6 linked regions of the Homo sapiens genome follow. The protein of the gene in region 6 interacts with the protein of the main gene of each other region in a pairwise test. Each region holds a gene or a part of one and is shown on either strand. Other genes may lie near its edges.

Region 1 (3,901 bases), about 42 Mb from region 6:
TGCAAGGCCGGCTCTCTGGGAAGAGTGGCTGCACCAACGTCCCAAACACGGCCAGGTTGATAAGCGTCTGGGGCGGGAGGGACTTCACAGCCAAAACAATGGCATCCTGTGGAGGGCCAGGGAGGGCGGCGTGAGGCCGGCCCCATGGGCCCTGATACAGAGCAAGGGAAGCCAGATCACTGCGTTATCCAGGCTGTGATTCAAGTGAGAGGCTGTGGTAACCTGGGAGAGGCCCTGGGTGTGAGGGAAAGTGTGCCAGTGAGCCCCCAAGTGTGTGTGAGAGACTGTGTGGGACTCTGGAGGTACACATGACTGTGTGTGGGACTCTGGAGGTATACATGACTGTGTGGGACTCTGGAGGTATACATGACTGTGTGTGGGACTCTGGAGGTGTACATGACTGTGTGTGGGACTCTGGAGGTATACCTGACTGTGTGGGACTCTGGAAGTACACATGACTGTGTGTGGGACTCTGGAGGTGTACATGGCTGTGTGTGGGACTCTGGAGGTACACATGGCTGTGTGTGGGACTCTGGAGGTACACATGGCTGTGTGTGGGACTCTGGAGGTACACATGGCTGTGTGTGGGACTCTGGAGGTACACATGGCTGTGTGTGGGACTCTGGAGGTACACATGAAACTTGAGTGTCCCTGTGATTGGAGTGACTCCCTGTGACTGAGTGCGAGTCTATGTGTGAGAGGCTCTTGGAATCCTGGAGAGATGTGTGTGCGTGAATATGAGCAAGAGAGCGTGACAGTGTCTGTTTGGCGGTTGGAGCAGGGCTGCTGTCTAAGGGAATCCCCTGAGGAGTTGCCATCTGCTTCCTCTTTGGAAGATGGTGTTTGAAGCAACAAGGTAACTCCTGGCTTCAAGAGGCTGCCCCCAGCCCTCCTCAGACCCACTGCCCCACCCAACCCCCAGGCCTGCCCACACCACACCCCCACGGGCCTTGTGTGCCACGCTGCTGCTATCCAAAAGGAAGAGTAGCTCCCGAGTAGCTGTCCCCAGGTGTCCGGGCTTGGAGCTCAGGTCTGGGCAGAAGCTCAGCGCCAGCACGGGGTTCAGCAGGATGTCCTTGTGGAAGCGTCGCTGCAGGAACCACACCTGAGCGGGGGAGTCCCAAGTCAGCCTGGGCAAGGCTTAGTGCTACTTTGTTGAGGGTGGGCAGTGGGACTGGCTCTGGGGCCTTTTTCTGTCTGATCCACCCAGAGGGGACATCTTTTTGTAGTAATTCGAATAAAGGCAGGAGCAAAGGCAGGTGGCTGTCTTCTGTTTATATCAGACCTAGCCTCCATCCTCTGAGACACACCCCAGAGAGATTCACATCGGCCCTCCAATGACAATACTCATCTGTCCTCTGTGATGGTTGGTGGCAGCTGTGGAGAGATCTTACCGAGAAAAGAGGCCTCCCCGCACCCATTCCAATGTAAGCCTGCTTGCCTGCTCCTTGTGCACAAATGCAGCCAAGGCCAGGGGCCAGGCCAGGCTCCTATGGCGGTACCTGCCGGTCCCCATCACTGTCCCTTCGCTGTAGCCTCTGAAAATCTCGGCGGGCCCTCACCCGGGCCTCATATTCTGCTGAGCTCAGGCTGCCGCCCTCCAGCATCAGGTGTGGCTGATGGGGCTCTGAGAGGAGAGGACACAATTCTGTCAAGGAAGGCCCTGCCTCTGGACCCCAAGTGCCCAGTTTCACTGTCCAGGAGGAGCCTGCAGGTCCAGCCTTCCTGCACCACAGGCTCTGCCCTCACAGATGACTCAGTCCATCTGGCTGGGGCCCAGAAACCTGCACTTAAGAAATGCTTCCCCCATTCATGTAGAAGCAGGTCAGAGCCGGCCCACGGTGTGTCCCAGTCTCTCACCACTGGGGTGCAGCAGGATCTCCAAGGCCCGGTCACAGTGGTGGCCCTCTGCCAGTGTGACACAGATGGTGGCTGCAGAGCTGGCATGAGGGGGGGCATCTGCCCGCAGAGCATGAGAGGGGCTCTCCAGGCCTGAGGGACATAGAGGCAGGAAGGGGAGATGTAGCCATAACACCTTCCCAGGGACAGCAAATGTTGGCAGGGGTCATGGCTGATTCAGTCAGCTCTCAGAGTCTGATCTATATGGGGTCAGATGGACGAGGGAGGATGTGCCTGCTTTCATGGGCTGGGAAGTAGATTCCAGCAGGGTTTCTGGCTGGTCGAAGAGTCATGCATCAGCCAGGTGCTGATTTAGCATTCACCCCCCACCTTCTGTGTAAGGAAAACCTACTTCATCACAGGTACTAGTCCCATTGTAAGTATCTCTCTTCCCACTGCTGGGTGGGATGAGATATAAATAAATTACCTTGATAAAATTGGGGTGTGTGTGTTGGGTAGAGGTGACCAGGGGATGCTCCCACCACTAACCCAGATGTTCCGGAGGCTGGGGTCCCTGTCTTTTTGTCCTGTGTCCCTCCTATCCCTGAGCCTTATTTCCCTTCCAGTCACTACACTGGGTGGAGTGGGCATCTGAAAAGAGGGCAGGCCAGCCAGATGCACCCACCTGCAAGCAGGCATGGCCCAGTCACCAGCATCTCGAAGGAGAAGGTATATGGGGCAGGGCAGCGGGCAGGGCCTGAGAACACGTCCCGAGGGGCAGCCAGCTCCTCCCAGGCCAGCCCTTCCTCCTGAAGGCTGCCCACCCCGAAGCAGCTGGTGGGGCTGGAAGGGAGCATGAGGAGGGTCACTGGGCCACTGTGAAGGCCCCTAAACCCTCCGGCTGACTGGCCCCAGCCCTTCCTCACCCTTCCCATCCCTGGGTACCCTGCCAGTGCCCCCTCACCCGCACTAGACCCAGAGAAGCCGAGGGAGGGACGAAGAGAATCACCATAGGCCCAACCTGTCGTCACAGAGCCCCGGAGGCCTGGGGGGCCCCGGCGGGCCTGGCGGGGCCAGCGGGGTGAGCACAGTGGGCAGGGCCACATGCAGCACCCCGTCAGGCCTTGAGGGCAGCTCCCGGCTGCTGTGCAGGGTCACCGTCATGGTGCCAGCCGCGGCGATAATGCCTGTGGGCAGCACCAACGTGGACCGGGCCTGGGCCAGATCCAAGACAAGATGACCTATGATGGGTGAGAAATGGGGTCAGAGCATGCTGGAAGCAGAGGAGAGGGAGGAAGCTAGATGTGGAAGCAGGCATTGGGTCAGGGAGCCTGGGCAAGGGGGACTTTGCGTGTTGGCACTAGGCTAATGCATTGGTGACGCAGGATGGAGGCATGAGATGAATGATGGCAGGAGAGGCAGACTAACTGTGAACAGATCTGGCTGTCATCAGGCAAGAGCAGCAGTGACATCCTTGCTAATGGAAGGCTGAGGAGAAGGGGCCATGTCCACTCTCAAGGCCCTGGGAATACCCACACCCTCTGCCCCTCTCCCCCTGCCTGCCTCTTTCCATTCAACCCTTGGCCACCATCCCTTGTGGATAGACATCTCCCTGTGGCCTGGGACCCCACTCTGCTCATAAATTTCCTGCTCCTGAACCATCAGGAGCTCCCCCATTGCCCACTAAGGTGGCTCCAGAATTCTCTACTCCTCCCGGGCAGGAGGAATAGAGAAGCAGGAAGCAGGCTGGAGGACATAAAGCTCCATTTGCACACTGCACACACTGTTTTATTTAGCTCCTAGGTTTGTTTGGGGACTGGTGGGGCTGCTAAAGGAATAATGACCAGCCATGTACAGTGGCAGCTGTGTACACCACCGACGTGGTCTGGCCCCAGCCCACGTTCACAGCCCTACTGTACCTCACTTCCTCACAATGACCAATTGTTCATCCTTTCAATAAATACTTGCTGAATAACTGAAGGGAAGAAAAAGATGGAAGGAAAGAAAGAAAGGGGCTTCCATCCCAGCCAACCGACACAGTGGAGACAGCACAGCATCAAGT
Region 2 (3,131 bases), on a different chromosome or scaffold from region 6:
AAAATGTGAGTGGTGAGAGGCCTCTGCAGGAATGCTTTGTGGCAAGTGGCTGGGCAGGCTGCCCCGGGCGTGCAGCAGGCACAGGTGGGTGCAAAGGAATACCAATTAGACCAGGTAATGGTAGGAGATGGGAGCTCCAGGCTCACCAGCTTGGGCTCACCTCTACTGTTATTTACACCCTGCTATGCAAATGTTCTAATGCCCAAGAGCAAGGGTCCTCTGAGGTCCAGTTTGGGTGGTTTTTAAATTTTGAGACAGGGTCTCACCTTGTCACCCAGGCTGGCATGCAGCAATGCAATCATAGCTCACTACAGCCTTGAACTTCTGGGCCCAAGTGATCCTCCCACCTCCGCCTCCTGAGTAGCTGGGACTATAGGCTCACACCACCACACCCAGCTAATTTTTAATTTTTCTGTAGAGATGGGATCTTGCTATGTTGTTGCCAAGGCTGGTCTTGAATTCTTGGCCTCAACTGATCCTCCCACCTCGGCCTCCCAAAGTGCTGGGATTACAGGCATGGGCCACCATGCCTAGCCCTGAGGTCCAGTTTGGACCCCCAGTTCCAGGCTCTAAGATGAGTCTTCTCCTGAGGGGCTGAACTCTGGCTTCCCAGGGCTTCCTTGGCTCCTAGCAGGAAGCTGTGCTGGGATCTAAGACTAGCAGTCTGAGCACTGGTCCCAAATGACCTAGGCCAGTCACTGTCCTCTGTGGGTGTTTCCTTTCCTCAGAACGACAGTATGGGACGATACGAGTGAGTTTGAAGGTCCTGCCCACCCGTGTGCTCTTATTCTAGGACACAGTTGCAACCCTGATGAGAAGCTTTATTGCTAAAAAGTCAGTGAGGGTTTATTGAGTCCCCAAACACCAGCTCTTTAAACCACTCCAACAACTGCTGTGAAGGTCACTGTGCAGAGACCCTGGGTAGGGGAGGCTGGAGCCAGGTGAGTGTGACAGGTCACAGATGGCTCTCAGGCCACCTGCCTTCAGCTCCTTTTGTTTCGGGTTCTAGCCAGAAGCCCTGGGGCCTGTCTCTTGCCTCTTCTTGTAGCATGAGACACCCTTGGGGGCCCTGGGGAAGGGAAGGCCAGTGGTGTGGCTTCCCTTTCAGCCTAGCAACGCCCAAACCCTTTTCCTCTACCTGGCTCCACTTGTCCCCAGATGCTATCTCCAAATTCCAAGTAGCAAAATTCCTGGGTTTCCCCTTCCCAGCTCAGAGTCACTTATGGCTGGAATGTGGGACAAACTCTTCTACCAGAAGGTCCAGGGCGGTTGCAGCAGCTCAAAGGTGGGGATGCTGGTGACATTGACTGGGATGGAAATGATGGCCCATGGCAGCCCATGCTGTTCCAGAGAGCGGCGGATCATGTAGCTGGGAGGGCATGAAGAGAGGTGGTGACGGTCACTTTCTTGGTACCCCATCATGCCCCACTGTCCCCATCAATCTGGGAGTTCCAAAGCCCGAGATCTTTTTTTGCCCTCTAACTGAAGCACCCCAAGTTGAGGCCTGCAAGAAGGGACTGGTGATTACCCCTGACCCAGTCATGGCGCCCAGCCTGGTGCTGATAAAGCCAGAGGCAAGGAGCCCTCACCCGTCTCGGCCGAGCAGGAAGAGGGCGGGGATGTCAGCTGTGCGCTGGGTACTGTCCTGGATCATCTCCACGTAGAAGCTGTCATTGTCAACTGCGTTGTCAGAGATGATCACCGCCCGCCCGCCGTGCTCCTGGACCACCCGAGTCTTGGAGAGGAAGGAGCAGCCCCTGGAAGAGGTGGTGATAAGACCAAAGGAAAGACAGGTCCTAGCTCCCCCTTCCCCAGACCATCACCCTGGGAGTATAGAAGGCAGACTATGAAGAATCTGTTATAAAGGCTCATAAGTAAATAGCTAAAAGCATGGATAATTTAAATACATTTCTTTTTCCTTTTTCTTTTTTTTTGGAGACTGGGTTTTGCTCTGTTGCCCAGGCTGGAGTGCAGTGACGTGATCTCGGCTCACTGCAGCCTTAACATGCGGTCAAGCAATCCTCTCACCTCAGCCTCGAGTAGCTGGGACCACAGGTGTGCACCACCATGCCCAGCTAATTTTTGTATTTTTTGTACAGACAGGGTTTCTCCATGTTGCCCAGGCTAGACATTTCTTAAAGACGCTTAAAAAGATGAAATTTTCAAAAACAGCTCTTTCAAAGCACTACTACCAATAATCTCAGAATCTGCCGTATGCCTGCCCACTCCTCGTGTCCTGCCTGCCCACTCCTTACCCCCTCTCCACCAGAGCAATCTGGTCCTGGATGAAGAAACCGTTGCTGAGTTCCCCGCAGGCCTCTGGAGGTTCAGCGGGGACAAGGTGAATCTGCTCATACCTTGTGTGCTGAAAAACATTTAACATTTGGACAGGTGAGAGTGTAATGAGACACACCTGCTTTAGGACTGGGCTGACAATCCCATCTTATTGGCACCTTATAAAGTGTGAAGGAAACATGGAGTGGTTTCTGTATCGCCAGACACTTAAACATTTTTACTTAATTCTCGCAAAGGCCTATCTGGTTGTCCTACACCACCCTACCCTTCTATGAGATAGGCAGGGGACTTGGTTGTAGATCCAGAGAGAGGAAGTGATGTGCCTTAAGTCACATAGTTCACAGGTAGAGCTGGCAGAGGAAGCTGGTGCTCTTGGCTTTTCACTTCATGTCCCCTAAAAAGACAACTTGTCCCTCCATGGTGCCTAGGTTTATATTATACTCAGGGGAGTAGCTGGAAGAGCTTCCTTTCTGTGCTGCAGCTCATGGAAGGCAGAGCTGATTCTGCTCCCTTCCCTGTCCCAGCACTCAGGTGGGATGAGAGGGTCACTGCAGCTCAGTGAGGGGAAGGGGGAGGTTGAGGATCAGAGATCAGGGGCCTCCCTTAACTTACAAAGATACCACCAAAGTCCTTGGCAGGTGTGGCTGTGAAGATGTATCGAATGTCCCCAGGACTCAGCACTTGAAAGTACAAATAATCATGGATACGGAAGCCTGAAGGATAAAGAGTACAGGTAAGAAGCCTCCCAGGAACAAGCTGGTTCAGGTTCAGATCCCAGACCCTGTGTCTTCAGCTGGGCTGGCTATAGTCTGGGCTCAGGGTCCTGGCTTCAGCCA
Region 3 (3,901 bases), on a different chromosome or scaffold from region 6:
TGAGTAGCTAGGACCACAGGCGCGTGTCACCACACCCAGCTAATTTTTTGTATTTTAGTAGAGACGGGGCTTCATCATGTTGGCCAGGATGGTCTCGATCTCCTGACCTCGAGATCCTTCCACCTCGGCCTCCCAAAGTGCTGGGATTACAGGCGTGAGCCACCGTGCCCGGCCTACCCTACATTTTTAAAATTAAAAAATACAGAGTAATACACAGAACATTTATTAATATTTTTAAAGCCACAAAATCAGAGAACTTTTGTAATAAGAGAAAAAATAATAAAGTCATTAATGAAAGAATAGCTGCTTTTTGACTCCTATCCATTTGAATTATAATTAACTAACAGTTTTTGTTTAAAATTATGGCCTGACACTATCTGACACTATAATAAAAAGATGTAAACTGAAGCCAAATAGATGATAAACATTTATAAAGACATGAAGTCAGCTCTGCTATAATTATGTTAATGCAACAGAATGTAAGTTTAGCAGGAAACACGTTTGAATAGTACATTCAAGCTCATATACAGCTATAATTCCCCTCCATAGTCAGACTTGCTACTGCTTCAAAATGGAACAAAATAATTTTTTAAAGATCTGAGAACAAAAGCAGGACAAAAATACAATCACAAAAATAAAACTTTTAAATCTAAACCAATGTTGAAATTTAGGTGTCAGCTTTCTAAAAGAATTCTAACAGCATCATTATTACGGTAAAATAAATTGCAACAAGATGGAAAGAACTAGAAATAGCTGCATACTGGCTGAACTTCAAAGAAAAAGACCACAGCCCTTTGCTATCAGTGGCTTCTGAAGTCAGACCTTTACTTCTGCGAATGAATAACTACTCTGGCACTGACTCCATGCCAGGCACAGTCAAACTGGCTGCCCTTAGCCACTTGCTTTACTCTGAAAATACAAGTTACTGTGTTTACACTTAAGTAACTGTAGCAAAATTTAAAAATGTGTGTAATTTTCAACTTGGATTACCTGGAAGCCTGTATGAGATGACTCTACAACCTAAATTAAAAGTCTACAGAAGGCCGGGCATGGTGGCTCACGCTTGTCATCCCAGCACTTTGGGAGGCCAAGGCAGGTGGATCACCTGAGAGGTCAGGAGTTCGAGACCAGCCTGGCCAACATGGTGAAACCCTTCCTCTACTAAAAATACAAAAATTAGCTGGGCACAGTGGTGGGCGTCTGTAATCCCAGTTACTCAGGAGGCTGAGGCAGGAAAATTGCTTGAATTCAGGAGGCAGAGGTTGCAGTGAACCGAGATCATGCCACTGCACTCCAGCCTGGGCAACAGAGCAAGAGCCTATCTCAAAAGAAAAAAAAAAAGGTCTACAGAAAGCTGATGGACAATGGTAGAGGTCAGGATGGGGGCTATACAGGTGTGATGGAAGTGCTGATTGAGAATGTTCTGGGGTGATGTTTTAAATCTTGATCTAGATGCTGTTTACATGGGTGTATATATAAGAAAAATTTGTTGAGATGTATATATGACTTGTGCACTTTATGTATCTCACTAAATGCGTTTTTTGTTTGTTTGTTTGTTTTGAGACAGAGTCTCACTCTGTCTCCTGGGCTGGAATCCAGTGCCGTGATCTTGGCTCACTGTAATCTCTGCCTCTCAGATTCAAGTGATTCCCCACCTCAGCCTCCTCAGTAGCTGGGACCACAGGCATGCACCACCATGCCCGGCTGATTTTTGTATTTTTTTGTAGAGACAGGGTTTCACCATGTTGGCCAGGCTGGTCTTGAACTCCTGACCTCAAGTGATCCGCCCACTTTGGCCTCCCAAAGTGCTGGGATTACAAGTGTGAGCCACCATGCCTGGCCAGAATGCATTTTATATTACATTTTTAAAATAATAAAGGCAGAGAGCACAGTGACTCACACCTATCATGCAGCACTCTCGGAGGCCAAGGCAGGAGAATCACTTGAGACCAGGAGTTCAAGAACAGCCTGGGCAACATAGTGAGATCCTGTCTTTACAAAAAAACTGTTTAAAAAATAGCTGGGTGTGGTGGTATGTGCAAGTAGTCCTAGCTACTGGGGAGGCTGAGGCCAGAGGACTGCTTAAGCCCAGGATTTTGAGACAGTAGTGTGTTATGATCACACCATTTGCACTCCAGCCTGGGTGACAAGCGAGGCCCTACTTCTAAAACATTTTTTTTTTAATTTAAAAGGAAAACCTGATTCTTTTGTAGTTCTTAGGCACGATGATTGGGTGTTCATGTGCATGTTTGAGATGTGCCTCCCTCAAACCTTGTTCTTACATCAGCACCTTACACGTCTAACATGAAAAGAAAAGAAAAGAAAAAAAAGAAAGGCCCACAGAGAGAGTTGATCCCTAAAGGAAGCATTCATAATTAAGGAAACAAAGGCCCTTAGAAATTAAAACATGAGAACTGAAATGCAAAAATGTTTAACAGATTGGAACATAAAATAAAAAGATAAAGAGATGAGAATTCTAAGAAAACATATCGGCCGGGTGTGGTGGCTCACGCCTGTAATCCCAGCACTTTGGGAGGCCGAGACAGGTGGATCACTTGAGGTCAGGAGTTCAAGACCAGCCTGGCCAACATGGTGAAACCCGTCTCTACAGAAAATACAAACACCAGCCAGGCATGGTGGTGTGTGCCTGTAATCCCAGCTACTTGGGGAGGCTGATGCAGGAGAATCAATTGAGCCTGGGAGGTGGAGGTTGCAGTGAGCAGAGATCATGCCATTGCACTCCAGCCTGGGCGACAGAGCAAAACTCCATCTCAAAAAAAAAAATAAATAAATAAACAAACTAAAATAAATACTTTTTTCTTTTAAATTTATTGAGACGGAGTCTCCCTCTGTCGCCCAGGCTGGAGTGCAGTGGTGTGATCTCGGCTCACAGCAACCTCTGCTGCCCAGGTTCAAGTGATTCTTGTGCCTCAGGCTCCCGAGTAGCTGGGACTACAGGCACGCAACACCGTGCCTGGCTAATTTATTTTTTAGTTTTTGAGACAGAGTCTCACTCTGTCGCCCAGGCTGGAGTGTAGTGGCATGATCTCTGCTCACTGCAACCTCCGCCTCCTGGGTTCAAGCGATTCTCCTGCCTCAGCCTCCCGAGTAGCTGGGACCACAGTCACGTGCCACTATAGCCGGCTAATGTTTTGTATTTTTAGTAGAGACAGGGTTTCACTGTGTTAGCCAGGATGGTCTCGATCTCCTGACTTCGTGATCTGCCTGCCTCGGCCTCCCAAAGTGCTGGGATTACAGGCGTGAGCCATTGCGCCCAGCCTTTTTAAATTATTTTTAGTAGAGATGGGGTTTCACCACGTTGGCCAGGCTGGTCTCAAATTCCTCACCTCAGGTGGTCTGCCCGCCTTGGCCTCCCAAAGTGTTGGGATTACAGGCGTGAGCCACCATGCCCGGCCAAAGTAAATACTTCTTGTATCCAAAAAAAAAAAAAAAAAAAAGAAGATGTGGTAACTGGAAAAACAGTGGATTCAACCCTGATCAACAGGGGAGGGAAGTCCCATGGTGACAGTGCTGCAGCAGGCTTACACAGTCATTAATTCATAATGAAACAGACAGATACGGGCTTCTGGGATGTTGATTTCTAAAACAAAAGAAGTTATAATACATTAAAGAATATAATTGAGAATTTGGGAAAAAAATAAAGATGTGATAATAGTAGAAAATGCAAGAAAACAAAGAAAAGGCAGCTAGAAACTCTAGGAAAAACAAAAAACTGAACAAGGCTACTACATTCCACATAGTAACTGTCCAAATTAGAACTGCAGCATTCAAGAAGAATAAAATGAATCCTAAAGAAAATATACATTCTTTCTACCAACAACCACCAAAAAAAAACAAAAAACAAAAAACAAAAAAAAACAATCAGAAACTCTAGGAAAGG
Region 4 (3,901 bases), on a different chromosome or scaffold from region 6:
AAACAAGACTTAAGCAAAAGCTATGACCAAAACAAGTAACAAAAACCAAAGACACACATATAACAAAACTGAACCTAGAAAAACATTTTCAGAAACAAATCAAATCTGAATAGTTATGCCCTTCCCCAAATCATGGGTTCTGAACTATTTCTACTTAAAAACGAATTCAAAATTAATATCTTATTCCCTAAATAAATCTGAGTTTTAGCAATTCCCTTCTCTTGAGGCAAACCAAGAATTATTTTTAATATCTGGAATATATAGCCCATTTTAATTAACAGATACAGACAGGAATATGACAAAATTTAGACTAAAATACTGCTTATGTTTACTGCTTAATAAAGTAAACCATACCTTTATGTTGGCTAGAATCTGCATTGAAGTTCATTTGTCCTTCTAGATGATTCTGTCCATTATCATCTGAATGCCTTGCATGAGGATCATTATGAAGAACATTAGGCTGGGTGTCAACCTTTTCTCCCAACAAAATACTAAATAGCTGAGAACATAAAAGAAATCCTATTGCTGATCCACAGAGGAAGGTTAAAAAATTCAGCCAGGATTTAGAGGCCATTTCCCGAAAGTGTATTTCTGTAAGAACAAAAATTAGCAGGATGTTATAAAATCAAAGCTGTATACATAACCGGAGTAAAAATTCTGGTAACATTTAGCTATAACGGAAAGTTAATTTCTAACAGTATTTAGCTATTATCTATGAGTTTACCCCTCTATTTGCTGCTAAAACAGCACATTATGGAAAATCCATAAAACCAGATTAATTAGTAGGACAGTCACAGTTGGGGTGGGGTATGGATGAGTATGTCAGTATTGCACACAGAATTTCCTATTCTTCCCACCAGGATCCTTTGTGGATCCAGGGCTTCCTGTCGTGTTGTTTTTCTTTCTTTGCTGTTAACTCTGAGTACGGAAGTCTACTTCTTTTTCTCTGGTAGCAACCACCACCCCTTCTCCAACCCAAAAGTTAGCAAACCCTTTCTGTAAAGAACTAGAAATAAAATATTTTTGGCTTTTTGGGTCTCATGTGGTTTCTGTTGCATCTTCTTCTTAAACAATCCTTTATAAACGTAAAAAAACACTTGTAGCTTGTGGAGGACTAGGGTCAGCACAGTTTGAGGACCCATGGACCAAACCTGGCCTGCTACCTGTTTTTGTAAATAGAGTTTTATTTGAACACACCCATGCCCATTCATTTATATACTGACTGCGGCTACTTTTGCCCTAAAACAGCAGAGTGAATAGCTACAATAGAGGCAATATGTCTCACAAAACCGTACCTAGCCCTTTATAGAAAAAGTTTGCTGGCTAGGCACAGTGGCTCATGCCTGTAATCCCAGCACTCTGGGAGGCCAAGGCGGGTGGATCACTTGAAGTCAGGAGCTTGAGACCAGCCTGGACAACATGGTAAAAAATTAGCTGGGCATGGTGGCATATGCCTGCAGTCACAGCTACTTGGGAAGAATAAGGTGAATACTTGGGAAGAATTGGTAAGAATAAGGTGGGAGAATCACTTGAACTCAGAAGGCGGAGGTTGCAGTGTGCCAAGACTGCACCACTCAACTCCAGCCTGGGCAAAAGAGTGAAACTATCTCAGAAAAAAAAAAGAAAAAGTTTGCTGACCTCTGCTCTATACTGCAAGATCTAGATTTTGGATGGAATCTATAATATTAACGAGATTAAGTAGGGTACCTGGGACACAGATGCCTGTTGAACTGCCCCACAACCAAACATTGACATAAACGCCCTTTTTAAGCTTTTGTTAACAATTACTATATGGTGAAGTTATAAACTTCTATTAAATTCCTTAAAAGATTGGTCTTAACTCTAGTTTCCTATTCCTCAAGATAATTAAAAAAATAAGTTTACTAAGCATTTATTATATACCAGAAGCTGTCCATACATTATTTCATTTTAAATAAAATTTAATTTCAATGTCCTTTTTCATTCTCACTAAACCCGTCTGCAGATGAGGAAAGAGAAATTTTAAAAAGGTAATTTTAAACAGGTAATTAATTCATATAGGCTGACACAATCAGAAGGAGCCACAGTTTGAATGTAGGTCTGTGTGCTTAAAAAGCCCATGCCCGGCTGGGCGTGGTGGCTCACGCCTGTAATCCTAGCACTTTGGGAGGCCAAGGCGGGTGGATCACCTGAGGTCAGGAGTTCAAGACCAGCCTGGCCAACATGGTGAAACCCCATCTCTACTAAAAATACAAAAATTAGCCAGGCGTTGTGGTACGTGCCTGTAATCCCAGCTACCTGGGAGACTGAGGCAAAAGAATCACTAGAACCTGGGAGGCAGGACTGCAGGACCGAGATCATGCCACTGTATTACAGCCTGGGTGACAGAGCAAGACTCTGTCTCAAAAAAAAAAAAACAAAAAAAAAAAACCCACGCCCTTTCCATTACATTTCTCAAACTCTTCACCTAATCACCACTAACAGCAGAGGGCAATGGGCAGTGAAAGTAGAGGTCTGGGAAATATAACCCTAAAAATCAAAATTGCTTTGAAATAGTTTGTGAAAGCAAAAGTACAAACCAACAATCACCACTACAATAATAAAAACAAAACAACTTCATGTATTTCTGGAATGGCTGACTAGGTTCTTTTAGTACAACCAAGTGCAATCAGAAAAACTGAACAAAATGTAAAAAAATATAAATATGTGTTTGAAGACACTGGTAAGATATCAAGGCAGTGAGAATTAGTAGGGCCAAAATCTGGAAGAAGGAAGGAAAGAGGCAGACCAGACATCTGGCACTGCTCTATCCTCAAGACAATGACTGATTCTGAAAGAGAAAACAGCAAGGGCAATAAAGCTAAGCAAAAATTAATGTCCAAAGTCTGCTTAGGAGAAGAGGTCCTGAAAAACACCTATGCTCTTATCAAGGACTCTGAAAGGCTACAATCTGAGAATAAGAACAAAACAAAAATAGACCAATCTTTACAACGGCTGAAGTCTACGTTAGAGTCATCTCAGCCACTGACTGGATGATCCGCCCTAGCCTAACTGTAAAAATATTCTCCTGGAGAAATATAAAATCATGAAGAACCTCAAATTATCATGACGACTTTTTTTTTTTTGGTATACAACATGGACAAAATTTTGATACACAATGTCCAAAACAACCAGGCATCAAGATGAAAATTACGGCTAAACACAAAAAAGTAGACAATAGAAACAGAGCCAAAAGACTCAAATAAGATTTTCATATTTTTAGCTTAGAAATAACTATTCTTAATAAAGTCAAGAAATTAAATGGCAAGATTAAGAAATTAGGCATAGAATAGTCACAGCTGAAGAAAAAAATTAATAACCTAAAAAGCTAGGTCAGAAGAAAATACGCAGAATGAAGTATGGAAAAACAAATGGATTGAAAAAGAATTGAGCAAAAAAACAGAATAAAGTGAAAGGGTCTAATGTAAGTGTTAACTGGAACCTTTGAGGGAAGAGACATAACTCAGGAGAAGTGGTATTTAAAGAAATAATGACTGAATATTTTCCGAAACTGACACAGTACCAACCCTCACATTAAAAATCTACAAAACCCAATGAAGATTACAAAGAAAAAGAAAATGTTACCTAAGTACATCAGTCAAACTACTGAAAACCAAGGACAGAAAAAAAAACTTCAAAGGTGTAATAAGATTGACAGCTGACTTTTTAGCAGCAACAACAGAATCAAGACTGCAGTGAACTATTTTTAAAGTGCTAAAAGAACAGAACTACCAACCTAGCATTCTGTATCCAGCAAAAATGTCCTTCAAGAATGAGCCTTAAAAACATGTTCAGAAAAACAAAACCTAAGTGAATTTATCACTAACAGTTCTATTTCTAATTCTTCAGGCAGAAGGAAAAGAATTTCAGATAAAAATTCAGA
Region 5 (4,530 bases), on a different chromosome or scaffold from region 6:
CAATCCTGTCTGATCCACCTGCAAAATAGATCCACTATCCACCTGCCCCCACCATGACCCCCACCCTGGTCCTAGCCAACATCGTCTGCCATTTGCATCTTCATAGCAGCCCCAGCCCCAGTCTCTGCTCTAGCCCCTGCCTTCAGTCTCTCCTTTCTCCACTCCCCCACGAGACAACCAAAGGAAGCCTGTTATGAGACCTGAGTCAGGTCACATAAAAGTCAAAGTCCGAAGTCCTCCCCACAGCCCACACAATCTGGCACCCATCGCTTACCCTCCCCCTTGGCCACTCTGCTCCAGCCACACTGGCCTCCTAGCTGCTCTACCAAGTCTGGTCTGCTTCATCCATAGGAGCTTTGCACTAGCTGTTCCCTCTGCCTGAACACTCCCCTGGTGTCCCCATGGCTCACTCCCCTCCTTCATGTCTCTGCTCAAAAGTTGCCTTCTCTGTGAGATCCTCCCTGACCACTGCTGTTGCAATCCACACCCCACCTCCAACTACCCCATCCTCCCTACCTTGCTCGACTTTTTCCATGACATTTATCATCACCACCTAACATTAAAATGTACTTAATTCTTATGTTGACAGCAATCTGCCTCCCCACTAGAATGTCGCGTCCTCAGGGGCAGGGACTACTTGTTCACTGCTGTATTACACACAGCTAAAGGAAGCCAGGCATAGTGAATGTTCAATATTTATTGAAAAAACAAGTCGACTCAAAAACATAGTTTTCCTTTTCAACAGAGGTCGAAAACTCCAAGACAGATAGCTATGTTCATCTGTAAAGGAGGCATTAAAAAGACAGAGAAATACAGAGGAGGCAGAGTCATATACAGTTTGCCGAGGACCCACATCTCTACAGAAGTCAAACTGTTTGCACACAATTCCATGCCCAGAGCATCTAATAAGAGACGATACCCCCACCTGGTGGCTGGGACGGAAACGGCACCTCCCTACAATACAGAACACCCAAAGGACCGTCGCCAAAGCCCTAGGAGTCTTTTGAGCCCAATAATTCAAAAGATAGAAACGTTCATTCATCTAAGTGATGTAGATGTTTTGGTTGGTTTATTAGATGTGTAAGTTTATAAAAACTGATGGGGAAAAAAAGTGCTCCAGGTGAGGATCGAACTCACAACCTCGGCATTGCTCCGCTCGCACTGTCATATAAGTACCGCGCGCTAACCGATTGCGCCACTGGAGCTCCGGCCGCACCCCTGCGCCGGGGTCTTCTTCAGTGGTTCATAGCCACGTGACCTCACCGGAGGGCCCCGCCTTGTGTTATATATGCAAATTAAACATTTTGCATTGACCAATAGGAGACAGTGCATTGCCAGTTCCGGATTCTCACGCCTCGCGGCCCTTGCTGTAAAAGGGAAAAGTCCGCGAGGCGTTTGGAATGTAGGGGTGTCGCCTACCAGAAGGACACGCCTCCTCATGAATATTCAAAACAAGGGGTGGGGTCTTAACCCTTCGCTGGCGGGTCGGCCGGAAGGCAGCCCCTCCCCCCCCCGCAGGCGGGAACAGGATGTGAGCCCCGGCGACAGCGGGGGAGGGGAAGCCCCGGGCGACCGCCCCCCGCCTCACAGCTGGGATCGGACTCTCCCGCCCCAGATGTGGCGCCGCCGCCGTCACACGAGCCCCGTGACACCCAGCCGGGAGCCCGAGGGGTCCAGAGGCTCGGACCCGGGCGTCCGGAATTTCTGCACCGCATCCTGAGAGACCCCGAGGTCCAGACCCCGGCGCCCAGGCTGGAGGACTTGAGCCATCCAGGTGCGCAGCGCCCCCTCCTGGAGCAGCCGGGAGCCCGGACGTCACCCCGCGAGACCCTGGAGGCCGAGCGCCCCGTATCCCCGTTTCAAGAACTCAGGATCCAGGACCGCAGACTCCCTCCAGGGCTCCGATCCCAAGACCCCGCGTTGGAGGAACTTGAGATCCGGACTTCTAAGCGCCCCAACCAGTTTCGGGCTGCAGCGGCCATCGCTTCAAGGGGACCCAGGACTTTGGGACCCCCCTGTGCTCCCACCTGGAGGGAGTTTCATTCCTGCCCCTAGAATTAGGGGAACTCAGAAATCCATCCCCCACCCCACGGCCCTACCTAGAAGACTTAGGAATGTGGGTCCCCAGCGCCGCCATCTGAGACTCCAGAGTCGAGGCTCCTAGCATCCCCTACGTAGAACACTGAGAAATTCCGACTGCGGGACCCCAGTCTCCGAGAGACCCCAGATTCTATTCCTGGAGCCTGAGAGCCCGAAGTTCACGCCCCTGAGTCTGGGCTCCGCACCTCCCTGGGGACCGCGTCGGGGTCGCGCAGGAGCCGGGCTGCCTCGAGCCGGGGCTGGAGGCTCCCCGGGAGGTGAGGGGGGAGGCGAGGGGCCCAGGCGGACTGGGGGAGGGGGCGGCGCCACTGCTGAACAATGAGGGGGCGTGCCGGCGGGGGGCGAGCCGAGGCGCCGGCGGGAGTTGGGGGCTGGAGGGGTGTGGGAAGGCGCTGGGGAGGCTGTGGCTGTGGGGACGGCGATCGGGGTTCGGAGAGACCGGCCGGAGGGGGTGCGAGGGCTCGGGGCCAGCGCCCCAGCGCGCAGCCCTCGGCGGGGGAGGGAGCCGTCTGCAGGACCCTGGCATCCGGTCCCCCAGCCTCCGCCCTCCCCTGGGACCCCGCGGCCTCCCGCCCACGGCTTTTCCCAGCCCTGCCCCTCGCCCTCCGCTCCAGCTGGAGCCCAAACGTTCCCAGGATCCCTAAGCCTCCGGCCCCAGACAAACGGGACTCGCAGCTTCTGCGCCTCCTGCTCCGCTCACTCTTCTTTGTCTCAGCCTTTCCATCTTTTTCGCCAGGTTCTCTCTCCTTGTCCCCTTCTTTCTGTCACTTTGTGCCTCCCCCATTAGTTACTCCCAGGGGCCCCTCCCTGGATTTACACCACGCTCCTAATTCCCAGCCCCCATCTGTGAGTCTGGGCGGCGGAGAGGCCCATGGGGTCCTGATATCCAAGAAGGGGCTCTTTCTGCAGGACTCTGCTGGGCCGCTCAGCCATGCCTGAGGGAGCCCAAGGACTGAGCCTCTCCAAACCTAGCCCAAGCCTCGGGTGTGGCCGAAGAGGTGAAGTGTGTGACTGTGGCACCGTGTGTGAGACTCGGACAGGTGAGCCTAGAGGCAGGGGCGGCGGAGCCTGTGGGGCTTTTATTCCTTGGCAATGCTGTCAAGGCAGGGTGATGGAGACAACCCCAGGCCAACTCGCACAAAGCTCCGAGTCTGGTGGGGAAGGCGGGCCCATCCCCAGGCAATGACAGGCCAGAGGGGGCAGCGCTGGGCAGAGTGGTCAGGGCTGTGATCGTGGATCCTCTGAGCTCGGAAGGTCAGGGGAAGGTTCCTGGAGGTGGGAACATCTCAACTGGGAAGTGGAAGATTAGGGGGAAGGAGTTGCGCAAAGACAAGGAAGAGTATTCTACATGCAAGGAACAGCATGTGCAAAGGCCCAGCGGTGAGAAAAGGCTGCATGTAAGTGACTGAAAGAAGTTGAGTGTCACTGGCATCCAGAGTGTAAGAAGAGGGGTGGCTGTGGGAAGAGAACTGGCTAGAGGGATCTGTGTTGGCCACATTGCCCAGTGCCCTGTGGATCTGAGGAGTTTGGACTTTATCCCCAGGGGCATGAAGGGGTTACACTCACGGGAGTAATACAGTCAGATAGACAAATTAATAAATGTCTACCTAGCTGATTCATGGAGGTGGATTAGAGAAATGGAGGCCAGAAGTCCAGAGAGGACCCTGATGGGAGAGGATGGGACTGGACCAAGACAGGGCAGTGGGGAGAGGAGGAAGGAGCCTGTGGGAAAGCTGTTGGACAGGTGTGGGTGAGGGTGTGGGCTGAACGCATGAAAGGCTGTGGAAGTCCGTGCATGGGGAGATTTCTCTGACCTCCTGTTCCACACCCCAGCAGCTCCTGCAGCCCCCACCATGGCCTCCCCCCGAGGTTCTGGGAGCTCCACATCCCTGAGCACAGTGGGCTCTGAGGGGGATCCAGCCCCTGGGCCCACTCCAGCCTGCTCAGCCTCCAGGCCAGAGCCCCTTCCAGGGCCTCCCATCCGCCTACATCTCTCTCCGGTGGGGATCCCAGGTTCAGCCAGACCCTCAAGGCTGGAGCGTGTGGCCCGGGAGATCGTGGAGACAGAACGGGCCTATGTCAGGGACCTCCGCAGCATCGTGGAGGTAAGGCGGGCAGACACCAGAGGGCAGTGGGTACCCAGGCCAGCCCCTTGGCCCCCATAACCCCAGTCATCCCAACAGGACTACCTGGGCCCTCTGCTGGACGGCGGGGTCCTGGGGCTGAGCGTGGAGCAGGTGGGCACGCTGTTTGCCAACATTGAGGACATCTACGAGTTCAGCAGGTCAGGGGCAGGGGGGACAGGCAGGGGGCATTGATTGGTTGGAGGGTCTATTTCCTAATCCAAACCTCGGAGCTTCGTAGTGTCCTGTCCAGGCTGGTACGTGGGGTTGTGACATTGGGCAAGGATCAGGGATCACGACTGGGAGG
Region 6 (3,901 bases):
AGAGAAAGTTAGAAGTAAATGAAAAAAAAATGCAGAGCTGAGCCTCAAATAGAAGCAAGACGAGCAAATGATACCATTTGAGAAAACAATCGGCAGTGGAAAGATGAAATTTTAAAAAATAAAATAGATTTAAAAGATTCAAGAAAAAGTAACGATAAGAAAGATAGGCAAAGAAGACAAATAGTAGAGGTGCCTGAAAAAGAAAAAACCAAAGCAGCATAACAGAATGGGTACTCAGTAAATATTTTTTGAGTGAATTAATTTATTAGCTATAGCATATAGCATATAGAAATGCATATTAAAATAGACATGGTATATTAGTATGTTGTAAAACAGTATTTTTTAAAAAAGTGAAATGAAGCCTGGGATTATTATGATTATTTTTTTTTATGAAACATAGTGTATATACTTATGGGGTTCATGAGATGTTTTCGTACAGGCATGCAGTGTGTAATAATCATATCATGGAGAATGGAGTATCCATCCACTCAAGTATTTATCCTTTGTGTTAAAATCTAATTACACTCTTTTAGTTGTTTTTAAATTATTGCCTATCGTCACCCTGTTGTGCTATCACATAGTAGGTCTTATTCATTCTTTTTTTTTATTTTTTATTTTGGATACAAGGTCGCGCTCTGTCACCCCGGCTGGAGTACAGTGACGCAATCTCGGCTCACTGCAACCCCTGCCTCCCCGGTTCAAGCAAGTCTTGTGCCTTAGCCACCCAAGTAGCTGGGATTAGGCGTGTGCCACTACGCCTAGCTAATTTTTGTGTTCTTAGTAGACATGGAGTTTTGCCGTGTTGGCCAGGCTCTTCTCCAACTCCTGGTGGCCTCAAGTGATCCGCCCACCTCAGCCTCCCAAAGTCCTTGGATTATAGGCATGAGCCACCGTGCCTGGCCTGTGTTTTTTTGTTCTGTTTGTTTTAATTTAAATCTTTTTAAAAATAGAGATGGGTTTTTGCCATGTTGCCCACTCTGATCTTGAACTACTGGGCTCAAGTGATCTGCCCGCCTCGGCCTCCCAAAGTGCTGGGATTACAGGCGTGAGCCCCCGTGCCCAGACTAGGTCTTATTCGTTCTTTCAGTTTTTCTTTTATACCCATTAACCTTTCCCACCTCTCCCCTGACTCCCCGACTACCCTTCCCAGCCTCTAGGAACCATCTTTCTATTTTCTATGTCCATGAGTTCTATTGTTTTGATTTTTAGATTCCATAAATAAGTGAGAACATGCAATGTTTGTCTTTCTGTGCTGGACTTATTTTACTTGACATAATGAACTGCATTTCCACCCATGTGGTTGCAGATGGCAGGATCTCATTCCTTCTTGTGGCTGAATAGTACTCCATTGTGTATATACCACATTTTCTTTATCCATTCATTTGTTGATGGACGCTTAGGTTGCTTCCAAATCTTGGCTATTGTGAACAGTACAGCAACAAACAAAGGAGTGCAGATATCTGCGATATACTGATTTCCTCTCTTTGGGTTATATTAACACAGATAGCAGTGGGGTTGCTGGGATCATATGGTAGCTCTATTTTTAGTTTGTTTTTGTTTGTTTGTTTGTTTTTGCAGTTGCAAGATTTAATAGAGTGACATAGAGTGAAAACAGAGCTCCCATACAAAAGGAGGGGACCCGAAGGGGGTTGCTGTTGCCGGCTTGAATGCGTGGGTTTACATCCCGATCCTTGTCCCTCCCACTGTGCTGTCAGGCAGTAGATGATTGGCTATTTCTTTACCTCCTGTTTTGCCTAATTAGCATTTTAGTGAGCTCTCTGATTGATCAGGTGTGAGCTAAGTTGCAAGCCCCGTGTTTAAAGGTGGATGCGGTCACCTTCCCAGCTAGGCTTAGGGATTCTTAGTCGGCCTAGGAAATGTAGCTAGTCCTGTCTCTCAGTCCCCACTCTCAGCAGGAAAACCTAAGTGCTGTTGGGGAGGTTGGCCGATGACTGCTCTAACTGCTTCCTGCTGAATTGGCACGTAGTAGGGGTGGTGCAGTTGAGATTTCCTCGGGAGGGGTGCCTTTGATGTCATTAACATCAGCGCATGGGCTAACAGGCCGGTCCAGGGGTCCGCGGTAGATCTTAGTCATGGACTGCATCTGGGGCTCCATTTGAAGAACGATTTGTAGTTTTACAGCTTCGATTCTGGAAGAGACAAACTTAACAAGGAGGTTAAAGATACAGGGATTGGGCCGGGCGCGGTGGCTCACGCCTGTAATCCCAGCACTTTGGGAGGCCGAGGCGGGTGGATCACGAGGTCAGGAGATTGAGACCATCCTGGCTAACACGGTGAAACCCCGTCTCTACTAAAAATACAAAAAATTAGCCGGGCGTCGTGTTGGGCGCCCGTAGTCCCAGCTACTCAGGAGGCTGAGGCAGGAGAATGGCGTGAACCCAGGAGGCGGAGCTTGCAGTGAGGTGAGATCGCGCCACTGCACTCCAGCCTGGGCAACAGAGCGAGATTCCATCTCAAAATAAAAATAAAAATAAAAAGATACAGGGATTGAAATGTATGGCCTGCAGTGCAGATTATTTCTTTGGCACACTTTACAGGCCCTAACTATCTGCTTGATAGTTTTGAAAAGGCCTGGTCCAGTAAATAATAATTTGGCCATCTGATGGGTGCTATCAATGCCTAAGTGAAAGGTTTGGTGAAGGGTTTTAAGTAATTTCCATTGGTTAGCTGCAGGCAAAAGTATTTTTCTTTCTTCGGTGGCTAGCCATCCTGAGGGGAGGAAACTATGTCCTCGTGAGCTTCCCCATTCTATTTCTTCTTCTGAGTACTGGGGCTTGGTTTCCTGGAGGGGATTACCCCATACTAGGGGTCCTTCTATAAGCATTTCTAATGGAGGGTCCTGCCTTGCGGCTCTTTTGGCTTCAATATCCTCTTGGCGGTTCCTTTCTATTTCCCGTTCCTTTCTGATGACCCCGGCAGTGTAAGACTGCCACCTCTTTAGGTTTCTGTACAGCCAATAATAATTTCCTAATGGCTTCCTGATGTTTGATAGGTGTTCCCTCCAAAGTTAGGAATTCCCTTTCTCTCCATATTGCTGCATGGGCATGGAGGACTAGGTAAGCATATTTAGAGTCTGTATATATATTTACCCTTTTTCCTTCTCCTAATTCTAGTGCCCAAGTGAGGGCTATTAGTTTTGCCAGCTGAGCACTAGTTCCTGGAATGAGGGGATTATTTTCAAGTATTCCATTATCACTGACCACTGCATACCCTGCTTTTCAAAGTCCTTTTTCTATGAAGGACTTTTTGTATACGAATTCATTGTATGTATATGAATACGAATGAATTGTATACGAATTGTATGCGAATTCAGTATACAAATTGAGGTCAGGATCCGTCAAGGGAACCTCTGAAAGGTCCCCTCGAGCGGCTTAGGTTTGAGCAATTACTTGTTGACAGTTATGTTCTATCTTTTCTTCATTGTCTGGAAGAAATGTGGCTGGGTTAAGAGTTGCACAAGTGCACAGTCGCAACACTGGCCCTTCAAGTAATAGAGCCTGATATTTAAGTAAATGGTTGTCTGAGAGCCACAAGTCTCCTTTAGCAGTGAGTATACCATTCACATCATGAGGTGTCCACACAGTAAGATCTCTTCCCTGTATTATTTTAACTGCTTCAGATACTAAGACTGCAACTGCAGCCACTACCTATAAACAATGAAGCCAACCCTTTGCCACTACATCAGTTTTCTTACTCAGGTATGCCACGGTTGCAAGCTCGTCCCTCGGACCTGTGTAAGGACTCCTAGAGCTATTCCTGTTTTTTTGTGATATATAAAGAAAAGTCTTGCCCTATTGGCAAGCTTAACACTGGGGCTTGGGTTAGGGCCTTCTTTAGGGCCTGGAAAGCCACTTCTGCTTCAGGTGTCCATCTTACTAAA

The links.
Region 1: the proteins of XRN1 (region 6) and VWA5B2 interact in a two-hybrid assay, tested with the Homo sapiens proteins (one large-scale study listed by BioGRID and IntAct).
Region 2: the proteins of XRN1 (region 6) and PRADC1 interact in a two-hybrid assay, tested with the Homo sapiens proteins (one large-scale study listed by BioGRID).
Region 3: the proteins of XRN1 (region 6) and TMEM50A interact in a two-hybrid assay, tested with the Homo sapiens proteins (one large-scale study listed by BioGRID).
Region 4: the proteins of XRN1 (region 6) and C1GALT1 interact in a two-hybrid assay, tested with the Homo sapiens proteins (one large-scale study listed by BioGRID).
Region 5: the proteins of XRN1 (region 6) and PLEKHG2 interact in a two-hybrid assay, tested with the Homo sapiens proteins (one large-scale study listed by BioGRID).

Annotation. Positions count from the first base shown.
Region 1 is NC_000003.12:184,232,357-184,236,257, reverse strand, and holds part of VWA5B2 (von Willebrand factor A domain-containing protein 5B2), read right to left. Parts: intron 3,081-3,901; coding exon 2,861-3,080; coding exon of another isoform or gene 2,849-2,860; exon of another isoform or gene 2,804-2,848; intron 2,683-2,803; coding exon 2,525-2,682; intron 1,993-2,524; coding exon 1,861-1,992; intron 1,628-1,860; coding exon 1,503-1,627; intron 1,106-1,502; coding exon 950-1,105; intron 107-949; coding exon 1-106.
Region 2 is NC_000002.12:73,227,206-73,230,336, forward strand, and holds the end of PRADC1 (protease-associated domain-containing protein 1 precursor), read right to left. Parts: intron 3,009-3,131; coding exon 2,908-3,008; intron 2,366-2,907; coding exon 2,256-2,365; intron 1,758-2,255; coding exon 1,590-1,757; intron 1,370-1,589; coding exon 1,249-1,369; 3' UTR 805-1,248; downstream 1-804. UniProt on the Homo sapiens protein: Plays a role in the modulation of physical activity and adiposity.
Region 3 is NC_000001.11:25,344,678-25,348,578, reverse strand, and holds part of TMEM50A (transmembrane protein 50A), read right to left. Parts: intron 2,306-3,901; exon of another isoform or gene 2,202-2,305; intron 1-2,201.
Region 4 is NC_000007.14:7,230,993-7,234,893, reverse strand, and holds part of C1GALT1 (glycoprotein-N-acetylgalactosamine 3-beta-galactosyltransferase 1), read right to left. Parts: intron 592-3,901; 5' UTR 575-591; coding exon 355-574; intron 333-354; exon of another isoform or gene 1-332. UniProt on the Homo sapiens protein: Glycosyltransferase that generates the core 1 O-glycan Gal-beta1-3GalNAc-alpha1-Ser/Thr (T antigen), which is a precursor for many extended O-glycans in glycoproteins.
Region 5 is NC_000019.10:39,411,056-39,415,585, forward strand, and holds the start of PLEKHG2 (pleckstrin homology domain-containing family G member 2), read left to right. Parts: upstream 1-1,613; 5' UTR 1,614-2,357; intron 2,358-2,723; exon of another isoform or gene 2,724-2,836; intron 2,837-3,009; 5' UTR 3,010-3,031; coding exon 3,032-3,140; intron 3,141-3,936; coding exon 3,937-4,205; intron 4,206-4,283; coding exon 4,284-4,384; intron 4,385-4,530. UniProt on the Homo sapiens protein: May be a transforming oncogene with exchange activity for CDC42. May be a guanine-nucleotide exchange factor (GEF) for RAC1 and CDC42. Activated by the binding to subunits beta and gamma of the heterotrimeric guanine nucleotide-binding protein (G protein).
Region 6 is NC_000003.12:142,441,327-142,445,227, reverse strand, and holds part of XRN1 (5'-3' exoribonuclease 1), read left to right. Parts: intron 1-3,901. UniProt on the Homo sapiens protein: Major 5'-3' exoribonuclease involved in mRNA decay. Required for the 5'-3'-processing of the G4 tetraplex-containing DNA and RNA substrates. The kinetic of hydrolysis is faster for G4 RNA tetraplex than for G4 DNA tetraplex and monomeric RNA tetraplex.